Regions from separate parts of the Homo sapiens genome. Here region 1 is linked to region 2. The links come from fine-mapping of genetic effects on gene expression. A gene starts in region 2. The other region holds a variant in brackets. All regions are shown on one strand. Distances are between the middles of the regions.

The links. PIP is the estimated chance that this variant, and not a neighbour inherited with it, causes the effect.
Region 1: its variant is fine-mapped to the expression of BRD7 in whole blood (INTERVAL, PIP above 0.99).

The regions. Positions count from the first base shown.
Region 1 is chr16:50,340,602-50,348,601 of GRCh38, forward strand. The region is part of intron 5 of BRD7 (bromodomain containing 7); the gene reads right to left. Among named protein-coding and RNA genes, the nearest start is that of BRD7, 24 kb to the right of the region's middle. The variant T/C (reference allele first, on the strand shown) is at 4,070.
Region 2 is chr16:50,365,683-50,381,803 of GRCh38, forward strand. BRD7 (bromodomain containing 7) reads right to left here and starts at 3,306. Exons shown (of 17, transcript NM_013263.5): 1 at 3,044-3,306; 2 at 2,408-2,616. The coding sequence starts at 3,092. RefSeq lists silencers at 2,695-3,204, 3,235-3,484, 9,056-9,350.

The DNA of each region.
Region 1 (8,000 bases), 29 kb before region 2:
AAAAATGTTAAAACATTTACACTACTTTTATGTGTTTGGATACTATCATAAACTAAACATAATTTGCAGAATGTTGCAAAACCATGCCAATGTGAAATAAACCATACAACCTCAAGGAGTTAAAACATGTAACTGGAGTAGCCAAATTACCAAAACTGTCTTTTTGGCTTAAATTTCCAAGTCCGCTATGTGCTGGAGAACTTGACCCCACTGCATGCTTTCATAGTTAAGTAATTTTTACATCTATAAATGTGCGATTCATTATGCCAAGGCCTTACTAAGTTGAAAGAAAAACCCAAGAAAAGAGAATCTGCCCCCTACAAATTTGTTTAAAAAACAAAAAAAATTCAAATTCCACTATTTAATAGTGATGACAGGTTAGAACACTTAAATAGAACAAAAATAAGTAGACTGAGTTCTATGTACAAGTACGTAAGACTGAGTGAAGGGTCGCAATAAATTTGGTATTAAAGTGGATGAAGTATATGTGGATCTTCAGTTTGGGCCATGACTGTAAATATGCCAGGTCTTGGATCTCTAAGCATCTGATGAAAGCTATGGGACCAGACCTTAAGTACACACACACACACACACACACACACACACACACACACACACAGCTGAACACAAAAGTCTTCATGTAATTTTAGTAGGTTCTTGGTCCCTCTAAAGGCTCATTATGGTATCCAAAGGACCCTAGATTAAAGACCTTTGTTACAGATATTTGGAAAAGCTTCCAGGCCATTAAGAATTACTAGGCTGGGCATAGTGGCTCACCCTTATAATTCTAGCACTTTGGGAGGCCGAGGCAGGTGGACTGCTTGAGCCCAGGAGTTTGAGACTGGTCAGGGCAACATGGTGAAACCCCGTCTCTACTAAAAATACAAAAAAATTAGCTGGGTGTGGTGACACACCCCTGTAGTCCCAGCTACTTGGGAGGCTGAGGCACAACAATTGCTTGAACCCTGAACGTGGAGGTTGCAGTGAGCCAAGATCATGCCACTGCACTCCAGCCTGAGCAACAGAGTGAGACTCGGTCTCAAAAAAAAAAAAAAAAAATTAAATATGTATTTGGGGGGATGGGACGCAAGTGAACGGAGATACTAGATTACTATATATACTCAAACTAAGTGACCATTTGGCCTATAATTGGCCAGATAATGGGCCTATGAACTGGCAAGAGTACTGAATTGTTCTAATGAACACAGGACTGATCTATTAAGCCAATTTGTAGATTCCTTAAATCTTAACATAATGTGCTGGGCTTTACTGAACTGTGGGTGATGGCACTGGTCATTCAAAAAGCTGAGTCTTCCTGCACACTTTTCACACACACACACACACACACACACACACACACACACACATTTTACTTCAACTGCCAAATGAACTGAATAAATATTACTTTAGGCCGTTGAGCTTTCCCTAGAAAAAAGTGGCAACGTAGAAATTCTAAAGAGCTAAGATACCAATTCCTTTCAATTATGATAAACCCTAACCTGCTTAAAAACACTCTGGGGACACACTTCTACTCTTCTTACTGTAAGAGAAAGATCAGAGGAAAATCATGCAGAAAAAAAACAAAAAACAAAAAACTGTGAAATTCTTTCCCATTAAGCAATGGTAAGGTCAGAAATATGCTGAAATAAACGGTTTTAGCCTAATTTTCACCAGATAAAAAGTTGGGAAAAGTTTCTATTTCTCGAAATAAGAGAGAATGTAATTCAGATTCTTTGGAGAAAGTGGAATATTACCTATAAACTCAACAGTAAAGAGCACTAAACACTGATATTCTTCATAAATCTCTGCTTATCAATATGTGGATGAAAAAAGGGACTAAGTAAAGACACTGTCTTTTTTTTTTTTTTTTTTTTTGAGATGGAGTCTCACTCTGTCGCAAGCTCTGCCTCCTGGGTTCACGCCATTCTCCGGCCTCAGCCTCCCGAGTAGCTGGGACTACAGGCATCCGCCACCACACTCAGCCAATTTTTTTGTATTTTCAGTAGAGACGGGGTTTCACTGTGTTACCCAGGATGGTCTTGATCTCCTGACCTTGTGATCCACCTGCCTCGGCCTCCGGAAGTGCTGGGATTACAGGTGTAAGCCACCACACCTGGCCATAAAGACACTATCTTATTTTATTTTTAGGAAAATAACTAATTAGGGTAACCAATTAGGGTCTAACCCTTATAGGTCAGGTGAGCACTACTGTGGTTATGTAAAACAAAGTAGAGGTAAAACAGATATTATCTAAACCAATTAAGTTTGTGGCGGTTGAATACATAGTAAATTTTAATATACATGGTTCCTTTCCCTGGAATCAACACACACCAGGACACTCCCTCAAATGGGAAAAACCTCATCTATAATAGGTATATATATTATAAGTTTTCAGGTCCTTGTAAATTTTCTATACTCTTCTTAAAGCTGAAGAAAATATGCTCAACAAATATAGCCAAAATGAACTCAGAGAGCAATTAACTTTCATCAAATTAGAAAATGTAATTAAACTTCTCTTTAGTATTTCTGGACAAGCCAATTTATTCTTTACTTTAGAGTACATGTGATATGGTTTGGCTCTCTGTCCCCACCCCAATCTCATGTTGAATTGTAATCCCCAATGTTGGGGGAAGGACCTGGTGGGAGGTGATTTGATCATGGAGGCAGATATCCCCCTTGCTGTTCTTGTGATAATGAGTCCTCACAAGATCTGGTTGTTTGAAAGTGTGTAGTGATAGGTTCCAAGGTGGCCGAATAGGAACAGATCCAGTCTACAGCTCCCAGCATGAGTGATGCAGAAGACTGGTGATTTCTGCATTTCCAACTGAGGTACTGGGTTCATCTCACTGGGGCTTGTCGGACAGTGGGTGCAGCCCACAGAGTGTGAGCCGAAGCAGGGCAGGGAATCACCTCACTCAGGAAGCACAAGGGGTTGGGGAATTCCCTTTCCTAGCCAAGGGAAGCTGTGACAGACTGTACCTGGAAAATCAGGACACTCCCACCCTAATACTGTGCTTTTCCAATGGTCTTTGCAAATGGCACACCAGATTATATCCCGCGCATGGCTCAGAGGGTCCCATGCCCACGGAGCCTCACTCACTGTTAGCACAGCAGTCTGAGATTGAACTGCAAGGCAGCAGTGAGGCTGGGGGAGGGGCGCCCACCACTGCTGAGGCTTGAGTAGGTAAACAAAGCCACCGGGAAGCTCGAACTGGGTGGAGCCTACCTCTGGGGGCAGGGCATAGCTGAACAAAAGGCAGCAGAAACTTCTGCAGACTTAAACGTCCCTGTCTGACAGCTTTGAAGAGAGTAGTGGTTCTGCCAGCATGGAGTTTGAGATCTGAGAACGGACAGACTACCTCCTGAAGTGAGTCCCTGACCCCCGAGTAGCCTAACTGGGAGGCACCTCCCTGTAGGGGCCAACTGACACCTCATACAGCTGGGTGCCCCTCTGAGATGAAGCTTCCAGAGGAAGGATCGGGCAGCAACATGTACCATTCTGCAATATTTGCTGTTCTGCAGCCTCTGCTGGTGATACCCAAACAGGGTCTGGAGTAGACCCCCAGCAAACTCCAACAGACCTGCAGCTGAGGGTCCTGACTGTTAGAAGAAAAACTAACAAATAGAAAGGACATCCGCACCAAAACTCCATCTGTATGTCACCATCATCAAAGACCAAAGGTACATAAAACCACAAAGACGGGGAGAAACCAGAGCGGAAAAGCTGAAAATTCTACAAATCAGAGCACCTCTTCTCCTCCAAAGGAACGCAGCTCCTTGCCAGCAACGGAACAAAGCTGGAGGGAGAAAGACTTTGATGAGTTGAGAGAAGAATGCTTCAGACGATCAGTAATAACAAACTTCTCTGAGCTCAAGGAAGATGTTTGAACCCATTGCAAAGAAGCTAAAAACCTTGAAAAAAGATTAGACGAATGGCTAACTACATTAAATAGGGTAGAGAAGACCTTAACTGACCTGATGGAGCTGAAAATCATGGCACGAGGACTACGTGATGCATGCACAAGTTTCAGTAGCCGATTTGATCAAGTGGAAGAAAGGGTATCAATGA[T/C]TGAAGATCAAATGAATGAAATGAAGCAAAAAGAGAAGTTTAGAGGAAAAGGAGTGAAAAGAAATGAACAAAGCCTCCAAGAAATATTGGACTATGTGAAAAGGCCAAATCTACATCTGATTGGTGTACCTGAAAGTGATGGGGAGAATGGAACCAAGTTGGAAAACACTCTTCAGGATATTATCCAGGAGAACTTCCCCAACCTAGCAAGGCAGGCCAATATTCAAATTCAGGAAATACAGAGAATGCCACAAAGATACTCCTCGAGAAGAGCAACTCCAAGACACATAATTGTCAGATTCACCAAAGTTGAAATGAAGGAAAAAATGTTAAGGGCAGCCAGAGAGAAAGGTCAGGTTACCCACCAAAGGGAAGCCCATCAGACTAACAGCAGATCTCTCAGCAGAAACCCTATAAGCCAGAAGAGAGTGGGAGCCAATATTCAACATTCTTAAAGAAAAGAATTTTCAACCCAGAATTTCATATCCAGCCAAACTAAGCTTCATAAGTGAAGGAGAAATAAAATCTTTTACAGACAAACAAATGCTGACAGATTTTGTCATCACCAGGCCTGTCTTACAAGAGCTTCTGAAGGAAGCACTAAACGTGGAAAGGAATAACCAGTACCAGCCACTGCAAAAACAGGCCAAATTGTAAAGACCATCAAGGCTAGAAAGAAACTGCATCAACTAACGAGCAAAATAACCAGCTAACATCATAATGACAGGATCAAATTCACACATAACAATATTAACCTTAAATGTAAATGGGCTAAATGCTCCAATTAAAAGACACAGACTAGCAAATTGGATAAAGAGTCAAGACCCATCAGTGTGCTGTATTCAGGAAACCCATCTCATGTGCAGAGACACACATAGGCTCAAAATAAAGGGATGGAGGAAGATCTACCAAGCAAATGGAAAACAGAAAAAGGCAGGGGTTGCAATCCTAGTCTCTGATAAAACAGACTTTAAACCAACAAAGATCAAAAGAGACAAAGAAGGCCATTACATAATGGTAAAGGGATCAATTCAACAAGAAGAGCTAACTATCCTAAATATATATGCACCCAATACAGGAGCACCCAGATTCATAAAGCAAGTCCTGAGTTACCTAAAAAGAGACTTAGACTCACACGCAATAATAATGCAAAACTTTAACACCCCACTGTCAACATTAGACAGATCGACGAGACAGAAAGTTAACAAGGATATCCAGGAATTGAACTCAGCTCTGCACCAAGCAGACCTAATAGACATCTACAGAACTCTCCACCCTAAATCAACAGAATATACATTCTTCTCAGCACCACACTGCACTTATTCCAAAATTGACCACACAGTTGGAAGTAAAGCACTCCTCAGTAAATGTAAAAGAACAGAAATTATAACAAACTGTCTCTCAGACCACAGTGCAATCAAACTAGAACTCAGGATTAAGAAACTCACTCAAAACCGCTCAACTACATGGAAACTGAACAACCTGCTCCTGAATGACTACCAGGTACATAACGAAATGAAGGCAGAAATAAAGATGTTCTTTGAAACCAATGAGAACAAACACACAACATACCAGAATCTCTGGGACACATTTAAAGCAGTGTGTAGAGGGAAATTTATAGCACTAAATGCCCACAAGAGAAGGCAGGAAAGATCTAAAATTGATACCCTAACATCACAATTAAAAAAATTAGAGAAGCAAGAGCAAACACATTCAAAACCTAGCAGAAGGCAAGAAATAACTAAGATCAGAGCAGAACTGAAGGAGATAGAGATACAAAAAACCCTTCAAAAAAATCAATGAATCCAGGAACTGGTTTTTTGAAAAGATCAACAAAATTGATAGACCACTAGCAAGACTAAGAAGAAAACAGAGAAGAATCAAATAGATGCAATAAAAAATGATAAAGGGGATATCGCCACTGATCCCACAGAAATAGAAACTACCATCAGAGAATACTATAAACACCTCCATGCAAATAAACTAGAAAATCTAGAAGAAATGGATAAATTCCTGGATACATACACCCTCCCAAGACTAAACCAGGAAGAAGCTGAATCCCTGAATAGACCAATAAGAGGCTCTGAAATTGAGGCAATAGCCTACCAACCAAAAAAAGTCCAAGACTAGATGGATTCACAGCCAAATTCTACCAGAGGTACAAAGAGGAGCTGGTACTATTCCTTCTGAAACTATTCCAATCAATAGAAAAAGAGGGAATCCTCCCTAACTCATTTTATGAGGCCAGCATCATCCTGATACCAAAGCCTGGTAGAGACACAACAAAAAAAGAGAATTTTAGACCAATATCCCTGATGAACATCGATGCAAAAATCCTCAATAAAATACTGGCAAACCAAATCCAGCAGCACATCAAAAAGCTTATCCACCACGATCAAGTTGGCTTCATCCCTGGGAGGCAAGGCTGGTTCAATATATGCAAATCAATAAACGTAATCCAGCATATAAACAGAACCAAAGACAAAAACCACATGATTATCTCAATAGATGCAGAAAAGGCCTTTGACAAAATTCAACAGCCCTTCATGCTAAAACCTCTCAATAAACTAGGTATTGATAGGACATATCTCAAAATAATAAGAGCTATTTATGACAAAACCACAGCCAATATCATACCGAAAGGCAAAAACTGGAAGCATTCCCTTTGAAAACTGGCACAAGACAGGGATGACCTCTCTCACCACTCCTATTTAACATAGTGTTGGAAGTTCTGGCCAGGGCAATCAGGCAGGAGAAAGAAATAAAGGGTATTCAATTAGGAAAAGAGGAAGTCAAATTGTCCCTGTTTGCAGATGACATGATTGTATATTTAGAAAACCCCATCGTCTCAGCCCAAAATCTCCTTAAGCTGATAAGCAACTTCAGCAAAGTCTCAGGATACAAAATCAATGTACAAAAATCACAAGCATTCCTATACACCAATAACAGACAAACAGAGAGCCAAATCATGAGTGAAATCCCATTCACAATTGCTTCAAAGAGAATAAAATAGCTAGGAATCCAACTCACAAGGGATGTGAAGGACCTCTTCAAGGAGAACTATAAACCACTGCTCAATGAAATAAAAGAGGATACAAACAAATGGAAGAACATTCCATGCTCATGGGTAGGAAGAATCAATATCGTGAAAATGGCCATAGTGCCCAAGGTAATTTATAGATTCAATGCCATCCCCATCAAGCTACCAATGACTTTCTTCACAGAATTGGAAAAAACTACTTTAAAGTTCATATGGAACCAAAAAAGAGCCTGCATTGCCAAGTCAATCCTAAGCCAAAAGAACAAAGCTGGAGGCATCACACTACCTGACTTCAAACTATACTACAAGACTACAGTAACCAAAACAGCATGGTACTGGTACCAAAACAGAGACAGAGAACAATGGAACAGAACAGAGCACTCAGAAATAATAACACACATCTACAACCATCTGATCTTTGACAAACCTGACAAAAACAAGAAAGGGAGAAAGAATTCCCTATTTAATAAATGGTGCTGGGAAAACTGGCTAGCCATATGTAGAAAGCTGAAACTGGATCCCTTCCTTACACCTTATACAAAAATTAATTCAAGATGGATTAGAGACTTAAATGTTAGACCTAAAACCATAAAAACCCTAGAAGAAAACCTAGGCTATACCATTCAGGACATAGGCATGGGCAAGGACTTCATGACTAAAACACCAAAAGCAATGGCAACAAAAGCCAAAATTGACAAATGGGATCTCATTAAACTAAAGAGCTTCTGCACAGCAAAAGAAACTACCATCAGAGTGAACAGGCAACCTACAGAATGGGAGAAAATTTTCACAGTCTATCCATCTGACAAAGGGCTAATATCCAGAATCTACAAAGAACTTAAACAAATCTACAAGAAAAAATCAAACAACCCCATCAAAAAGTGGGCAAAG
Region 2 (16,121 bases):
TTCTTGGAAATTCAAGGTATAAGATCTGAAATAAATCTGGAAAAGTCAGAAATTTTAGGGATGTTCCCTGAAGGAAGAACCCTCCCCCACCCCACACACACCCAGAAAAAATATGAGAAAAACATAAGAAAATTAGAGGATCAGTTCAGGAGTCTAATATCTAAAGGGCAGGAGTTCCAGAAACCAAGAAAAGAAAAAATGGAGGGAAAGAAATGAACACAGGAATACTTCAAGCACACAGCTCTGAACTGAAGGCACAAGTATTCATTGTGAAATGTCAGAACACTGAAGATAAGGGGGGAAGATCCTAAAAATTTCAAGTTAGCAAATACTGGTCATATGCAAAGGACTAAGAATCAGAATGGCAACAGACTTCTCAACAGCAAATTTAGAAGCCAGAAAACAACAAAGCAATGCCTTCAAAAGTCTGAAAGAAAATAATTTTCAATCTAAACAAGTCAAACCATCAACCTGTATGAGGGCAGAATACAGATTTTCAAACATGTTAGAACTTATAAAATCTACCCCGTGTATGCTTTCTTAGGACGTTCCTAGAGTTAAGAGTCCACCAGAACAAGGGAATGAATCAAGAAAGAGGAAGGCATGAGATCCAGGAAGCAGGTGAAGGAGAGTCCCAGGAGGCCTTGACAGCAACTAATTCAGCCTCCAGGAGACAGAAAGCTGTAAGATAAATGTCTCCAGAGGAAAATAAAAAAGGAAGTAAAGAACTCAAATGAGTTTCATAAATCTTAGAGTTTGGGAAGAATTATTAAGCAATAACCAAACAAATGAAAGCAATGATCTAACTAGTTAAGATCAGATCTATATTTGCATACTATACTTGTCTACAATCACTTTAATATTGATTTAACCAATAATTGTGATGTACCTATACCTTGAGCAAGGGAAACTGAATTCTCATCTTCCATAACATGATGTCAGTAGAAGATATAAACTGCTAAATCAGTAAATAGCAATATAAACCTTTATTTTGAAATAGAAATAAGTAGGCAAGGAAAAATACCTAAAAAGTGTCCAGAGTGGAGCAGCAGCCTGCTTTGTGTCAAAAAGCTGTGTAGTACTCTTGACTTTTAAAAATCATCTTCACGAATTACTTTACTACTATTAATTAAAAAAAACAACTGGTTACCTCTGAAGAGGGAGTCTATGTGAAGGATTGGGGTGAGGAAAACTTTTTCCATTTTGTGTACTTTTGCACCACATGAACTACTTTTAAAAAATCAAATGCATATATGGGTTTTATAATTTAAGGAAGAAAACAAAACATTACTCCTACCTAGCCAAAGGTAATAAAAACTGGGACAAAAGGGAAGGAATAGACTTAAGAAATCCCCAAAATAAGATCTCTAAGACTTGGTGACTTAGCAATGTGTTCAATCACATGGAAGAGAAAGCTCCTCTTGTATATATAAACATAAGAAAAATTACATAACTAACCTATGAAAATTTACCTTCACAATAATTGATGTAATAAGTCGTTCAGTGGCAGGTTAAATTTGGAAAGTTAATAACAGTAATAACAATGTTATTATTATTAGAGACAGAGTCTCGTATTATTGCCCAGGCTGGAGTGCAGTGGTATGATCATACCTCACTGTACCTCAAACTCCTGGGCTCAAGGGATCCTCCCACCTCAGCCTCCTGAATAGCTGGGACACAGGTGCACACCACCAGGCTCTGGAAATTTTTGTAGTTTATTTTGCAGAGGCAGGGCCTTGCTATGTTGCCCAGGCTGGTCTCGAACTTCCAGCCTCAAGCAATCCTCCCACCTCGGCATTCCAAAGTGTTGGGATTACAAGTGTGGGCTACTGGGCCCAGCCATTAATTATTATTTTGCCCAGCTTTCAAACCAAGATGGTAGCTACTCATTCTTTTCTGTTAAATGCAAATGGTTAAGAATATCAATCTCCATTACAGGTTTCTGACCAAATTTTCTCAACACACTACAACACTGTTTTAAAAGATTTAAAGTTGCTCATTACAGATTTGGCATTATAATATTTATTTCAGAACAAACTTTAAACCCCAGTAGATCCCACTCGCTTCTGAAATGACTATTTTTGACAATCCTTGAACACTGAGGCTTTCTTGAGCATGACTTTTTACCCTGCCTAGATGGAAAAACCATTCTTTGAAGCAGCTCCTCAAAATTTGGACTTAGCTGCTTCCTCACCTGATGTGCGAGTACAATTGCCTAAGAGTATAATCCAAAAACGACTTGCTGAAACTCATAGATGATTCATGTCTCTATTCTGTCCTGCTCCTCCTCAAACGAGCCAGATCTTAGAGGCGTTTGTTTTCCCCAGATACAAAGAAAATAAAATGAGGTTGGCACCTGGAAGAGGCAGTGCCGTCCGCAAAGCCAAAGCAATGTAACCACTTGTACCTTAACTCTTCTCCGTTTTCTCCCCTTTTCTTCCCCTGGAATCTGCTTCTCTCCTTTCTTTCTCTTTTTCCGCTTTCTGTCCTTGTGTTTGTCATGATCGTTTTTGTCTTCGAAGAGGCTGGAGTCGTGCCCCGAGCTGCCCGTGGAGAGTTCGGTGACTTCGTTCCCTCCTACTTTGAGGACCAGCTTCAAGGGCTTCTCTACATACTCTTAAAAAAAGAAAAGAAAAGAAAGGAAAGCGCGTCGATTAAAATCGGGGCTCTCCAGGGAGTGCTAAGGATGCAGAGCGCCAAGGCGCAGCAAGCCCGAGGCGGCTTTGGGCGCTCCGCGAAGCACCTGTTGAATGACGGACCCCGGCCCGGGGGTGCGGCGGCGCCGCCCGCCCCGAACGCTCCCAGGCCTCCCGGGCCCGCCTCACGTCTCCCCACCAGAGACCCACCGGACCAGGGGGACCCGGGTTCGAATGCCGCGGCCGCACGGGGGGCAGCGCGGCCTCCGGCAGGACGCGCCCCCTTCGCCGGCCTGGGCCTGCCGTGGGAAGGAAGGGCCCCGGGCCGCCCCGGAGCCACTGGGAAAGAGCGGAAGCCCGGCAGAGCCGCCGAGGGCCCGCCGCCCGCACCCCGGCCCCCTCCTCACCCTCGTAGAGGTGTTTGTCCGACTTGTGCTTCTTGTGCTTCTTGCCCATGTCCGACCGGGCCCCGGTGCCCGCCCCCCGCGCCAGGCCCAGGCCGTGCGGCGCCGCTTCCGGTCCGGGCCAGGCGAGCGGAGGGCGGGAGCGGGGCCCGCGAGACCCCGCGCCGCGAGGCAGGGGGGCGGCGCGCGCCGGGCGGCGCGATGCCCCTCTCGAGAAGACGGCGCGCGAGACCCGGCCGGAGCCCGAGAGCGGCGGCGGGGGGGGCGCGCGGCCGGCGCAGAGGCGGGAAAGAAGGCCCGCCGCGCGCACAGGGTGCCGGCGGCTGCGGGTGGCGGCCCCTGGCGACCGGAGGTGGTGCTGCAGCTCGCGGGCCGGGGGCGGGGCCGAGGGCGGGGCCGGGGCGGGATCCACCGCTCAGACTCTCGTCTTTCTTCCTTCCTCCCTTTCCCCTCAATTTGTCTGTCTTGTCTCTGTCTCTGTGTGTCTCTCCCTCCGTCTCCACTTCCCTCCCTTCTTTTTACTCCCTCCCTCTCTTTCTTTCTCTTTCCCTTCTTCCCTTCCTTCCTCCTTCCTTCCTTTCTTTCTTCCCTCCTTACTGCCTCCCTTCAAGCCTTCCTTCTCTCTTTTCTTCCTCCCTCATCACCCTTCCTTCTCCTCTTCCCGTCTCCTTCCCTCTTTTTTTCTTTTCTTTTTTTCCCCTTCCTCCTTCCCCCACTCTTCCTTTCTTTCCACTTTCCCTTGCTTCTGTTTCTTCCCTTTTACGATATTGACTGAACCCCATACTGGGTGCCAGACCCAGCAAACTCAGCACATTGGTGACTGAAGATTCTAATCTTAAAAAAAACTTATGTGCTGATAGGTGAAGGTTACCAGACGTTTTGACTGTCTTTACTTCTAGCTGTATGGTGCTTTGTCTGTTTTCAGATAAGCTCGTAATTATAGTCTCCTCTTAAGAAAGGATCTGTTATCAGTCATTTATACTTTAGTAACAATTTAGACCCATGAATCACCTCTCCCAGGAAGATTTGTAGCTTTACCTTGAACTTCAGTGGTGAAATTATAGGCTTATATTTTAGGACCCTATTGTTGGCAACTAATAGAAACCAATTTGAATTATTTCAAGTAAATAAAAAGGGATTTATTGGTTTACATGTCTAGAAAGGGCAAGAATAAAGCTTGCCAGAGGGAAGACAGGAACCAAGGATGTAATGCTGTTGACTGGCATGCCAGCTCGCTCTCTCTCTTGTCTCTCTGTATATCGGTCTCCATCTCCCCCCTTCTTTCCTATATGGCTGGAAACATGGCCACCATCTGCTTCTGAGGCCTCTTCTTTATAGTGTCCTGACCAACTGGGAAAAAGATCTCTTCCTGTCAGCTTCACCTGGAAAACAGTCCCAGGGAAGGACTCTGATTGGCTTGGCTTGTGTCACATGTTTTATGGGACAGGGGATGGGAGATTGATTCGGCCTGGATGCCAAATCTACCCCCTCACCCCCTTGGCCAAGAGAAGTGGAGTCTGTGATTGGCAGCTCCTGCCAGACTTCTATGGTTAGCCAGGGAAGATGAGGTTCTTCTAATGAAGAGAGTTGCTTTTTCATGAAAGCTAAAAGTGTGTGTCTATTATTTCCCTGTAACAAGCCTCTCTGGTGTCCGTGAGGCAGAGATCAGGGTGTGGGAAGAGGGGTTGTGTTGGGGAAGAGACCTTCTGCTGCTCTGAAATCAAGCCAGCTAGGCCCCCTAGGCCCCCTAAGCATAGGGCAAAGCTTGGTTTCAGCTTTTCATCCACTGTCTGTAACTTATTTTGCTTTAAGAACCACTATGCCAACTCCCACTGTGGGTCTGGCCTCTATTGTGGCATTGCCTTGCTCCAGGCTCAACCTGTGGGTTTACCTGTCTGCTCCTCATTACCCTGGGTACCTCCTTGGTACTTACAGTGCCTAGCACAGTGACTACTACTGTCCAAATGCCCCTCAGAGGAAAAAGGTCTGGTGAACTCATCCATACTATCAAGTTAGTAATTTCCCTACCCTCTCAAGAGTGATTCTACATAGGTCACAAAGTGGTCACATCAATGGAAAGTGAATAAGAGTACGTAGCAGAAAACACCTCCCAGAAAAATGTTCCTGGAAGTGGAAGCCCAAATTCATCTAGTTTTAAATTCTCAGCACTAATACCATGCCTGGCACATAGAAGGCACCAGAAAATGCTAGTTGAGCTGCACGGTCCTGGTTCGGGCAGACTCCCCTGAGAGATTTCTGCCTGCTGCCATTCATGACCTCCCAGTGAGTGTAGAATGGCCTGGAGACTGGCTTCAGAGCAATAGAATATGGCAAAGATGATGGACGTCACTCCTGTGTTGAGGATACATAAGACTTCAGTCTTACTTGCTGACCGTCTCTCTTGCCTTCTTGGCTTGCATGTTTTGATGAAGTAAGCTGCCATGCTGGAGAAGCCCATGTGACAAAGACCTGAGGCTGGGCCCCAGTTGACATCCGGCTACAACTGAGGCTATCAGTCCAACAGCCTTGAAGGATTGAATCCTGCCAGCAACTGTGTGAGCTTCAAAGTGGATCCTTCCTCAGTGGAACATTCAGATGAGACCTCAGCCCTGGCTGACATCCTGATCACAGCCCTGTGAGAGTCCCAGAAGCAGAGGCCCCAGTTAAGCTGTGCCCAGACTTCTCCCCCAACAGCCCAACAGCTCTTGAGTGAGTGAGACAGAGCTGACTTGAGTCCTGGGGTCACAGATGCTTACAGGGTCTGTGACTTTGGCATGTCCTGAGAGGGCTGCCTACCTCTGAACCTTGGAACCAGGGTGAGGTCATTGGGTGTGCTGCTGCAACAGGGTGGTTGTAAGGATCAAAGAAGATAATGTGGTCAGAGTGCCGAGAGTAATGCCTGATATGGTAGATAGTAAATGGTCAATAAATATCAGCTGCTAATACTAACTTTTAAATATTTGTGAATGTCACTTTCCTGCTCAAAACCATCTTGTGGCTCCCTGTCTCACTCGAAGTCAAAGCCAAATCTGCACCTTGGCTTTCAGGGCCGGATCTGGCCCTCATTCTCTTTCCAGCCCCATCCCCCTGCCCCCTCCTCCCTCCTGCCCCAAGCCCCTGCTTCTCTTCCCTGTGTTCAGAACACTCTCCCCTGAGCTCCTGGAGTGGCTCCTGCCCTCACATCACCTTGGTCTCCCCTGTGACCACCTCAGAGAAGCTTCTGGACCACCAACCCACACACCCCTTCCCCTCTTCCCTCAGCCTGTGCAATGCCTTGTTTCTCTCCATTGCACCTACAGCCTCCAAAATTATGTTGAATATCTCTTCCCTATCTGTGTGCGTGTCCACCATCTGTCCACTGGCTTCCCAGGTCCCCAAGGTTAGGGACTAGGTCTGTCTCACTCCTGGCTGTGTGCCCCGCACTTAGCACAGAGCTGGGCTCAGCACAGGCCCTGGAGAAATATTTGTTGGACAAATGAATACATCATAATTACTGTGTTGTGATAATAATTCTCTTCCTCCTTCCTCCCCTTTCTGGTGGAGACACGAGGTGACTGGAGCCCTCCGGGAGAGTCTGTGGAGGAGAAAGCCTGGCCACTGGGGGGTGTGGCATGCCCAGGAAATCTCTGCGCAGCTCAGCTTGGAGGTGGCCCCTCTTCAGCCTGGCCTCTCTGCTGAGGAGTTGTTGCCCAGGGTGCCTTCAGGCCTTGGTGCTCTGACAGAGAGGACGCTCTGGGACACAGCTGATGTCCTTGCCACCTGACCCTGAGGTAGAGTGTGGCCTTCATTGGTTGGGTGGGATGAGGGCTGGGCGAAACTCAGGGGCCTTGGTTCTGGGACACCCACTGGGAACCCTTTATAGCTATTCCCCTATAGCCAACAAATGAAAGAGGGCTGCTGGGTGCTGACCTATGATCTGGACAGACTAAAAGCCTCAAACATCAGGGGCTTCTGAGCCCCCTCGCCTCTGTTTGGCTGTACTCCTCAAAGCCCCCTTATGCAGCACTGATGCAGGATGGGGAACTCCTGAGACGGAGAGAATCCTTGGGCTACTAACTTCTTCTCCTGCTTTCCTTTGTCTGAATCTCAGTTTTCTCCTCTGAGGGATGGGCAGAGCCAGCCTCATGCAGCCTGTGTGGCTGGCATGAGGGTTAGCAAAAGCAAGGAGTGAGAAATGTTCTGGCACAACACAGGCCTTCCCAAGTGTAATGGGGCAGACGGTGGGTGGGAAAGGGCCGGTTCTCCTGGATACTCCATGGGGATTCCTGCCCTCTGTCCTGGGGTGGGAGGTGGCATCCCCTGAGCCCAGGCTCCCAGCAGCTCCAGCTAGTGCCTCATTTGGCACCAGGAGCAGGTCTGGGCCTTCCTGGTGCCAGCCTGATGCCAGCCTGTGAGTGCTGCTGGGAGAGGCCTCAAGAGGCTGAGGCTGGTTCAGCAGGCAGCTCTGTGGGGAATCAGTGGCCTGGGGTGATTCGCTATGACAGGTTGTTGACAGTGCAGCTTCCAGGGTTGCTCACGGTCACTGGCGGAGCAGCCCCAGCTGCTGCCTCTGAGTGAGGAAAAGAGAGAGGCGGTGGATGGCCGCCATCCACGCAGGCATGCCACATGGCCTCTGCCCACACGGTCTCAGAGCTGCTTACTGGAGGGCAGCGAGCCCAAGCCATGACACTCACGGCTGCCAACCCCAAAAGTCATTTAGCCTCAGAGCCCTTGATCAAATAAGACAGAGGCAACATCAGGACCTTCCTTCCTTCTTTCAGTTCATATTTTCTGTGTGCCTACTATGTGCTGGGGGGTGCTAGGAACACGGTGGGAGTAAAATAGACACAGCCCTGCCCTTATGGAGAGCACAGTGAGATGCATGTTAGACAGAGAACACAGACAAATATTTAATCATGGCCATGCTAACGGTTAGAAAGGAAAACAGCAAGCTGCTGTCCAGATAGTGCTCTGACCCAGGCTGAGGGCTCATCCAGGCCTAACCTGGAGGATAAGTCTTGGTTAGGTGCCCTACAAGTGGAACCTGAGGCGTGGATCTGTTGGGGTGGCAATTGGGGAGAAGCTGGGAGAGAAGCAGGACGGGGTGGGTAGAAGCAGAGAAAGAGGTGGTCCCAGCCTCAGCCCCGTGCCACAGTGGTGGCGGGGCGAGGGGGGATTGGGAACATCAACTGTCCAGGGAACAGTCCCACCCTGTGGGAGGTGGCTGGCCTTTTGTAGCCCATGGTGGGCAGCGAGGTCTGCCTGATTGTCGCCTATTACAGAGGTGACTCTAGTTTGTCCCAGGGCAATTCTCTGAGGGAGGTGTGCGGCTGCCTTCCGTGAGTGGCCAACACTCCCAGCTGCTGGTGATGCCCCTCCAGCAGGATGTGCCTTCAGGAGAGGTGAGCCAAGGGGGCATCAGCTGCATCTACTAAACAGGCAGAGAGGTCAGCATGTGCAAAGGCGAGGGAAAGTTGGGTGCAGTCAGGGAGGAGAGGAGAGCAGGTTTGGAGCAAGAGAGATGATGGGGACTGTGTCTGGAAGAAAGGCTGGGCTGGGCAGAGCTTTTCAAGGCATGGCAGAGATGCTTGATTTTATTTGGGATGCCCATGAAGGCAGTGGACGTGGGTGCATGGCCATATTGGCAATTTAACAAGAGCGCTTTGGCTTCTGAATGAAGGAAGAATTGGAGTGGGTTAGGAGACCGGGCAGAGAGACCAGCTTAGAAGTGATGTGGTCTTCAAAGGGGAGATGGGGGTGGCTTGGTCTAGCGTGGATGATGTGGGGATGGTGCAATGGGATAATTCAAGAGTTATGTAGGAGGAAGAACTTAGGAGGGGTTAGGGATGCCTATGCAGAACCCAAGAGGAGAATCCAAGTAGGAAGGTGAATGCATGTGTCTGGGGCTTGGAAGGGAGGTGAGACCTGAAAATAGATTTTTGGCATAGAGATGTCTTTGGAACCTCAGGAGTGAATGAGACCACCCAGGAGGAGAGAGTAGAGTGATCAGAGAAGATGGAGCCTTGAAGAGCTTCAATATTATCTAACAGGTGAATAAAGGATGAGGAAGCAGCAGAGGAGACTGAGGAGGGGGAGGGAGGCAGGAGGAGAAGCAGGAGAGTAGGACACCCAGCAGGGGAGGACAGAGCACTGGAGCCAGGTGAGGGCAGTGGCGGGCTGAGAGTGTGTAGAGGAAGGAAAGCTCGGCCAGGCTGCAGGGAGCCTCTAAGCACTGGAAGGGCTGGGGGAGGGTGGATCAGACAAGTAGACTTGTGCATGCAAGGCCACTGAGGTGATGCTGGAGAGTGGGAGGTGTGATGAGACAGAGATACAGAAGGGAACACTGAGGCCTTGAATGACAGGCTGTGGGGTGTGGACTTCCCCCTGTAAAGTGGGATAAACCAGATGAAATGGTCACCTTGGAGAAAGCTGGGCATTTTCCAGGAGCCCCAGGCTGGGGACAGACCATGAGCAGCTCAGAAATGATCCTGCAGGCCCGGGCTCCCGGTCCATCATGATTCCTTGGAGTACTGCCCTGCGGACGGGGCCCAGGATTAAATTCCCTTCACAGAAAGTCACTATGTGTTTGATAAACTCTTATCAGACTGTGGCTGTGGGCTTGTGCCATGTCACCCAGATCTCTAATTTCATAGTCCTGGCTCTGCCAAAGACTGGCTGTGAAACCTGGACATGTCTCTCCCCTATCTCCATCTAAACAGGGCTGCAGAAAGAGGAGGAGTCAGTCAGATGCGCTGACTCATGCCTGTAATCCCAGCACTTTTGGAGGCTGAGGTGGGAGGATTGCTCAAGACTGGCTTGGGTGACGTAGCGAGACCCCATTTCTATAAAAAATTAAAAATTAGCCAGGTGTAGTGGTGCATGCCTGTGGTCCCAGCTACTCAGGAGGCTGAGGCAGGAGGATCACTTGAGACCAAGAGGTGAAGGCTGCAGTGAACTATGATTGTGCCACTGCATTCCAGCCTGGGCAACACAGTGAGATCCTGTCTCAAAAACAAAAAAAAAGGTAAAAAGATAAAGAAAGAGGACTCGACTGGCTGCTTTCAAGCTGTTGGTTCTAGGGAAGCACTTCTGACGCTCTGTCAGTGTCTGATAAAGACTTTGTTTTTAAAAATATGTGTGTATTTTAGGTTTTTCTTGATTCAGTTATTTAGTTTTAAACCTATTTATTGCCTAAGTAATTAATGTTTGTTATAGACCAATTGAAAATACAAATAGGTGTAAGGAAGATATTTCAAATTGCTCATAATCTCACCACTTTCTGTAATAGTTTGGTATATGTCATTCCAGATATTCTCCAGTGGTGTTTTTTTTTTTTTTATTAGAGTTTGGTGGTGATTCTTTTCTCCCTGCCTCAGGGGATAGATTCATGATACCCCTTTATTGAGCCTGGCTACTCAAAGATTGGTCCAGGGACGGCTGCATTGGCAGGACCTGGGAGCTTGGTAGAGATGCAGAGTCTCAGGTCCCACCTCAGGATTGTAGAATCGGAATTCACATTTTAAACAAGATTCCTGGGTGATTCATATATGTGTATTAAAGTTTGAGAAGCACTATTCTGGAACATTAGCTTATACTTAGACTTAATTTTCTTGGACAAGAGAAAGGGAACATTTCTGAAGTTGGAACAACTAGACATCAAAAGGAGACCCTTTGACAAAACCAGATAAACTAAAAGGTTCTTTTTTTTTTTTTTTTTTTTTTTAACTCATAAGCCCACAGAAAGATGGAAAATATCTGAGGGACTTTTCATTTACTTTATTTATTCATTTATTTTAGAGATGGGGTCTTGCTGTGTTGCCCAGGCTGGAGTGCAGTGGCTATTCACAGGGGCGATCGTAGTGCAGAACAACCTTGAACTCTTGGGTGCAAGCAATCCTCCTGCCTCAACCTTCCAAGTAGCTGGGACTACAGGCGTGTGCCACTGCACCTGGCGTTTACCCCAATTATTTAAAAAGTTTCTTTTTCTTTCTTTTTTTCTTTTTTTGAGACTGAGTCTCACTCTGTTGCCTAGGCTGGAGTGCAGTGGTGCAATCTCGGCTCACTGCAAGCTCCGCCTCCTGGGTTCATGACATTCTCCTGCCTCAGCCTCCCGAGTAGCTGGGACTATAGGTGCCCGCCACCAAGCCCAGCTAATTTTTCGTATCTTTAGTAGAGACGGGGTTTCAACGTGTTAGCCAGGATGGTCTCGATCTTCTGACCTCCTGACCTCCTGATCTGCCAGCCTCGGCCTCCCAAAAAAGTATTTTTAACTATTAAAAAAGAACAGTGATAGAATGCTAGAACTTATTCCTTCTATCTAGTAATTTTGTATTCATTAACCAACTTTTTTTTGTGTTTGTTTGTTTTTTGTTTTTGTTTTTCCTGTGAAGCTTTTATTTTGGGCAGAGGGCAGGGAGCTCAGTCCTTCCTGGCAGCTGCTTTCTTCATGGCCGCCAGGACGTGGCTCAGCTCCTCTCTCTTCGTCTTGGCATAGATGTGTGTTAAGCAACCTCTTTCTATCTGCCTTCCCTATTCTTCCCAGCCTCCAGTTACTACCCTACTTCCTGCTCTAGCCTACCCTCTACTTCCATGAGATCAACTCCTTTAGCTTCCACATATGAGTGAGGGCAAAGGATTTAGCCTTTAATCCTGCAGTATTTCTCTTTCTGTGCCTGGCTTATTTCACTTAATGTCGTGTCTTCCAGGTCACCCATGTTATTTCAAACAACAGGATTTCCTTCTTTTTTTAAGGCTGAGTAGTATTCCACTGTGTATTTGCTTTATCCATTCGTCTGCTGATGGATATTTAGCTAGATAGGAGGAATACATTTTAGTGTTCTTTGGCACTGTAGGGTGACTATAGTTAATAATAATTTATTGTATATTTCAAATAGCTAGAAAAGAAGATTTTGAATGTTTTCAACACAAAGAAATAATAAATGTGTAAGGTGATGGATGTGCTAATTACTCTGATTTGATCATTACACATTGCATATATGTATCAAAATATCACTCTGTACCCCATAAATATGTATAATTATTATGTATCAATTATAAATAATTTTTAAAAAGTGATTGAAAACCTCCCACACATGCAAATATATAATAAAATTTTATACATTGGAAATGAATAACACATTGACATTTGGGTCTTCATTGATTGTAAAAAGTAAATGTTAAGAACTTTTTTTTTCTTTTTTTTTTTTTTAAGATGGAGTCTCACTCTGTCTCCTAGGCTGGAGTACAGTGGCATGATCTTGGCTCACTGCAACCTCCGCCTCCCAGGTTCAAGTGAGTCTCCTGCCTCAGCCTCCCGAGTAGCTGGGTTTACAGGCATGCACCACCACACCCAGCTAATTCTTGTATTTTCAGTAGCGACAGGGTTTCCCCATGTTGGCCAGGCTGGTCTCGAACTCCTGACCTTAGGTGATCCACCTGCCTTGGCCTCCTGAAGTGCTAGGACTACAGACGTGAGCCACTGTGCCCAGCCAAATGTTAAGAACTTTTAACGTAAAAGATAAAACACATTTGCACTAACAAGCTACTGCTTTTATTTCTCACACATAGGCATTCTGCTTAAAACTTCATTTGAAACAAGAAGCTGCTGAAAATCTTTGAAAACCACTCAGTGATAGGACTTCCAGGGGCCCTTCCACGGCTCTGTAATTCGGTTAGATAAAACATTATAATGATCAGATGTTTTTATTTTTAAAATACACATCTTTTAGCAGACCATAAAGCCACACACAGATTAGTTGAGCTTGTTGTGTGGCTGGATAAAGTCAGCTGGAACTTGATTTAGGGGAAGAACACTGAACTGGAGATCACAAAGCCTGGTTCTCATTCTTGCATTGCTTGGCCTCCATGTGACAGTCAGAAACCCATCCCTAATGAGGTTGAGCTTCAGGTGTGGCTATATCCAGGTGCTCAAATGATGTCCCCAAGATTCAGGCTTTCTCTCTCTCTGGTCTACTTCCTTCTGCCCTGGTCCCATCCTCAGACAGGCTCCATTGGCCTCTAGAAGCTCCCAGATGATATCCTCATAGATCCCAGTCCAGAAAAAAAGGGAATGTGCCTTTCCCCAGTGGCCCATCAAAAGTCACAGGGCTATGTGATTGGACTGGTTTATATCATGTACCCACCTAGAGCCTATGACCATGAAGGGGTGGGATGTGGGTGGAGGGTGGTCAAGGTGGTGGCAGAATTCAGGGACAAGTGAATCCTAGACCATGGGTCTTCTAACCCAGGAGCTTGGGAGGGAGACGAGTGCCACCTAAACCACATGGCCTAAGTAAGTTGGGATCCCTTAGAAAAATTAGGGTACTGTGACCAGAGGATTGGAGAATGGATGCTGTACCCAAAGTAACCAAGCATTAAACAAAACAAAACAAAACAAAACAAAACAAAACAAACACCTGTTTCTAAACTCAGTTTCTCTACCTGCCTTGAGAATGAGCAGGTTGTGAGGGCCCAATGAGAGGAGGAAGTAAATGATGAGCACTGTTACCTGTTACTTGGAGCCCTATTACTGAGGGGAGCCCCGAGCCCAATTACTCAGAGCCCTGTTACTTGGCGCTGACAGGAGCCCCGAGGCACCTTGCTGCTAACAAACATAACACGCTTCACAAAATGTTCACCCTGTCCCCCATGAGACTGGTCACTGATAAAGAACTGGTAGAAAGGTTCTTTCCTACAAATCCAATTCCAGTCGGCTTGGCTGATGCTTGGCCTGCTCCTCAGAGAGGCAAACATGCCCATTTGCTGGGGAAATGCAACCCAGGGGCGTTTTCTCCTCCTCTCTCTACTGTGATCTTGCCTTTCAGAGCCAGTAGGGGTTCAGACTTGGAGTTGCTGACATTGTCAGCCCCGGAAGAAAAGTTGTGAGGCTCAGCCAGATCTATTTATGCCAGATTTTACAACATCATTGAATTATTTGCACTCAGAACTGCTGATGTTCTGTTGTTATTGTTGTTTAAGTCTACACATAGGCATTTTGGAAGGCACCAATGAATGGGCATCTCTTTATAGTTTCTGAGGCAGAAAAAGGAAAAACTTTTTTCTCCCCTTTATTTAGGAGAAAAGTGAGTGGAGTGGGGAATACAGCCTTCTCCTTCCTGCCTGCCTGTCCCTCTTTCACCTGGGGTAAAATCTGCTTCTGAAAGCCTCCCCAGAGCCCGCTATGAGGAAGGAATAGCCCCTCATCTGTGCACCCTGGCTATTGACTCAGCAAGAGCTGCCATATTTCCTGGCTTCCACTCTGCTCCGCCATAAATCCACTTTCCCCACCACAGCCAGAGTGACTTTGAAATACACAGATTTCCGGGCCAGGGGCAGTGGCTCACACCTGTAATCCCAGCACTTTGGGAGGCCAAGGTAGGAGGACCAGGAGTTTGAGACCAACCTGGGCAAGATAGTGAGAACCCCATCTCTGTTAAAAACAAAACACATGGATTTTTCTGTGGGTGGTGGTACGTTACAAAAATAAAAACAAAAACATAGATTATAGATTGGATTAGGCCACATCATCGTCCTGTTCATAACCCTTTGGGGGGTCTCCCATCTCAGATCAAGCCCAAGCTTTTTTCCTAAGCCTACAAGGCTCAGTGTAACCTGACCTCGTGCTCTTCTCTGACCCCGATTTCTGCCACTGCCTACTTCTACCCACTAATCTCCAGACATAATTTGCCTAATCTTAGTCCCTTGAACATGCCACACTCTTCCTCCATGCAGGCCTTTCACACATGCTATTCCCTTATTCTGGAATGCTGTTCCCACACTCTTCATATGGCTGGCCTCTTCTCATCTCTCACCACCTCAGAAAGGCAACCCTAAACTGCTCCAACAAGTCCCCTTTTAGTTTCTGTCTTTATTTATATATATATTTTGAGATGGAGTTTTGCTTTTGTCGCCCAGGCTGGAGTTCAGGTGCGAGATCTCAGATCACTGCAACCTCCACTTCCTAGTTTCAAGGGATTCTCCTGCCCCAGCCTCCCGAGTAGCTGAGATTACAGGTGCTCACCACCACACCCAGCTAATTTTTTGTGTTTTTGGTAGAGACGGGGTTTCGCCATGTTGGCCAGGCTGGTCTTGAACTCCTGACCTCAGGTTATCCACCTGCCTCGGCCTCCCAGAGTGCTGGGATTACAGGCGTGAGCCACTGCACCCGGACCTCTTTTAGTTTCTCTTATAGCACCCTGTGGTTTTTCTGTTTCTGATAAAACACATCACATTTGCAATTCCGTATTTATTTGTCTATTGTCTGCCTTCCCATAAGACTGAGAACTTCCTGAGGGCAAGAGCTGAGTCTATTCTGTTTTGTTCACTGGCACTTGACATGTACCTAATACATTTTTGTTGCCCAAATGATTAGACGGTTGAAGTCCTCTCTTGTGGAAGGCAGGACTTCCTTCTGTGTTCTTCCTTCTGGCAGTGACTTATTTCTCCTCCCAGGAGGGGATTGGAGAGAGGAGGTTTTGTCATGCTTCCCTCTGTCCCCCTCAAGGCACTCAACATGGTATTTGGCCCACCATGGGAGCCCAGTGGAGGATGATGAATGAATTCACATTAAATATGTTCTTCCTCTTCCCCCCAACTGCACAGCCAGCTACTCCTGGGAGAGGCATAAATAGTGACCTACAGGCCGGCTGCAGTGGCCCACACCTGTAATCCCAGCACTTTGGGAGGCCTAGGTTGGTGGATTACTGGAGGCCGGGAGTTGGAGATCAGCCTGGCCAACACGGGGAAACTCTGTCTCTACTAAAAATACAAAAATTAGCCAGGCATGGTGGCACATGCCTGTAATCCCAGCTTCTTGGGACGCTGAGGCACAAGAATTGCTTGAACCCTGGAGGTGGGGGTCTCAGTGAGCCAAGATTGTGCCACTGTGCTCCAGTCTGGGCAACAGAGCAAGACCGCCTCAAACAAAAATAAGTGACCTACACCATGAGACTTTGGAGTTGTCAAGCCTTTGCAAAATCTCAAACTCTCTCTTCTACTGATGTGAGTACTGTAGTGCCTGAGAGTCCATTACAACAGAGCAAGGGCAAGGTCTAAGAATCATCTTCCAAGGTCAGCACACCTGGAAGGGGTATTGCCTGAACTG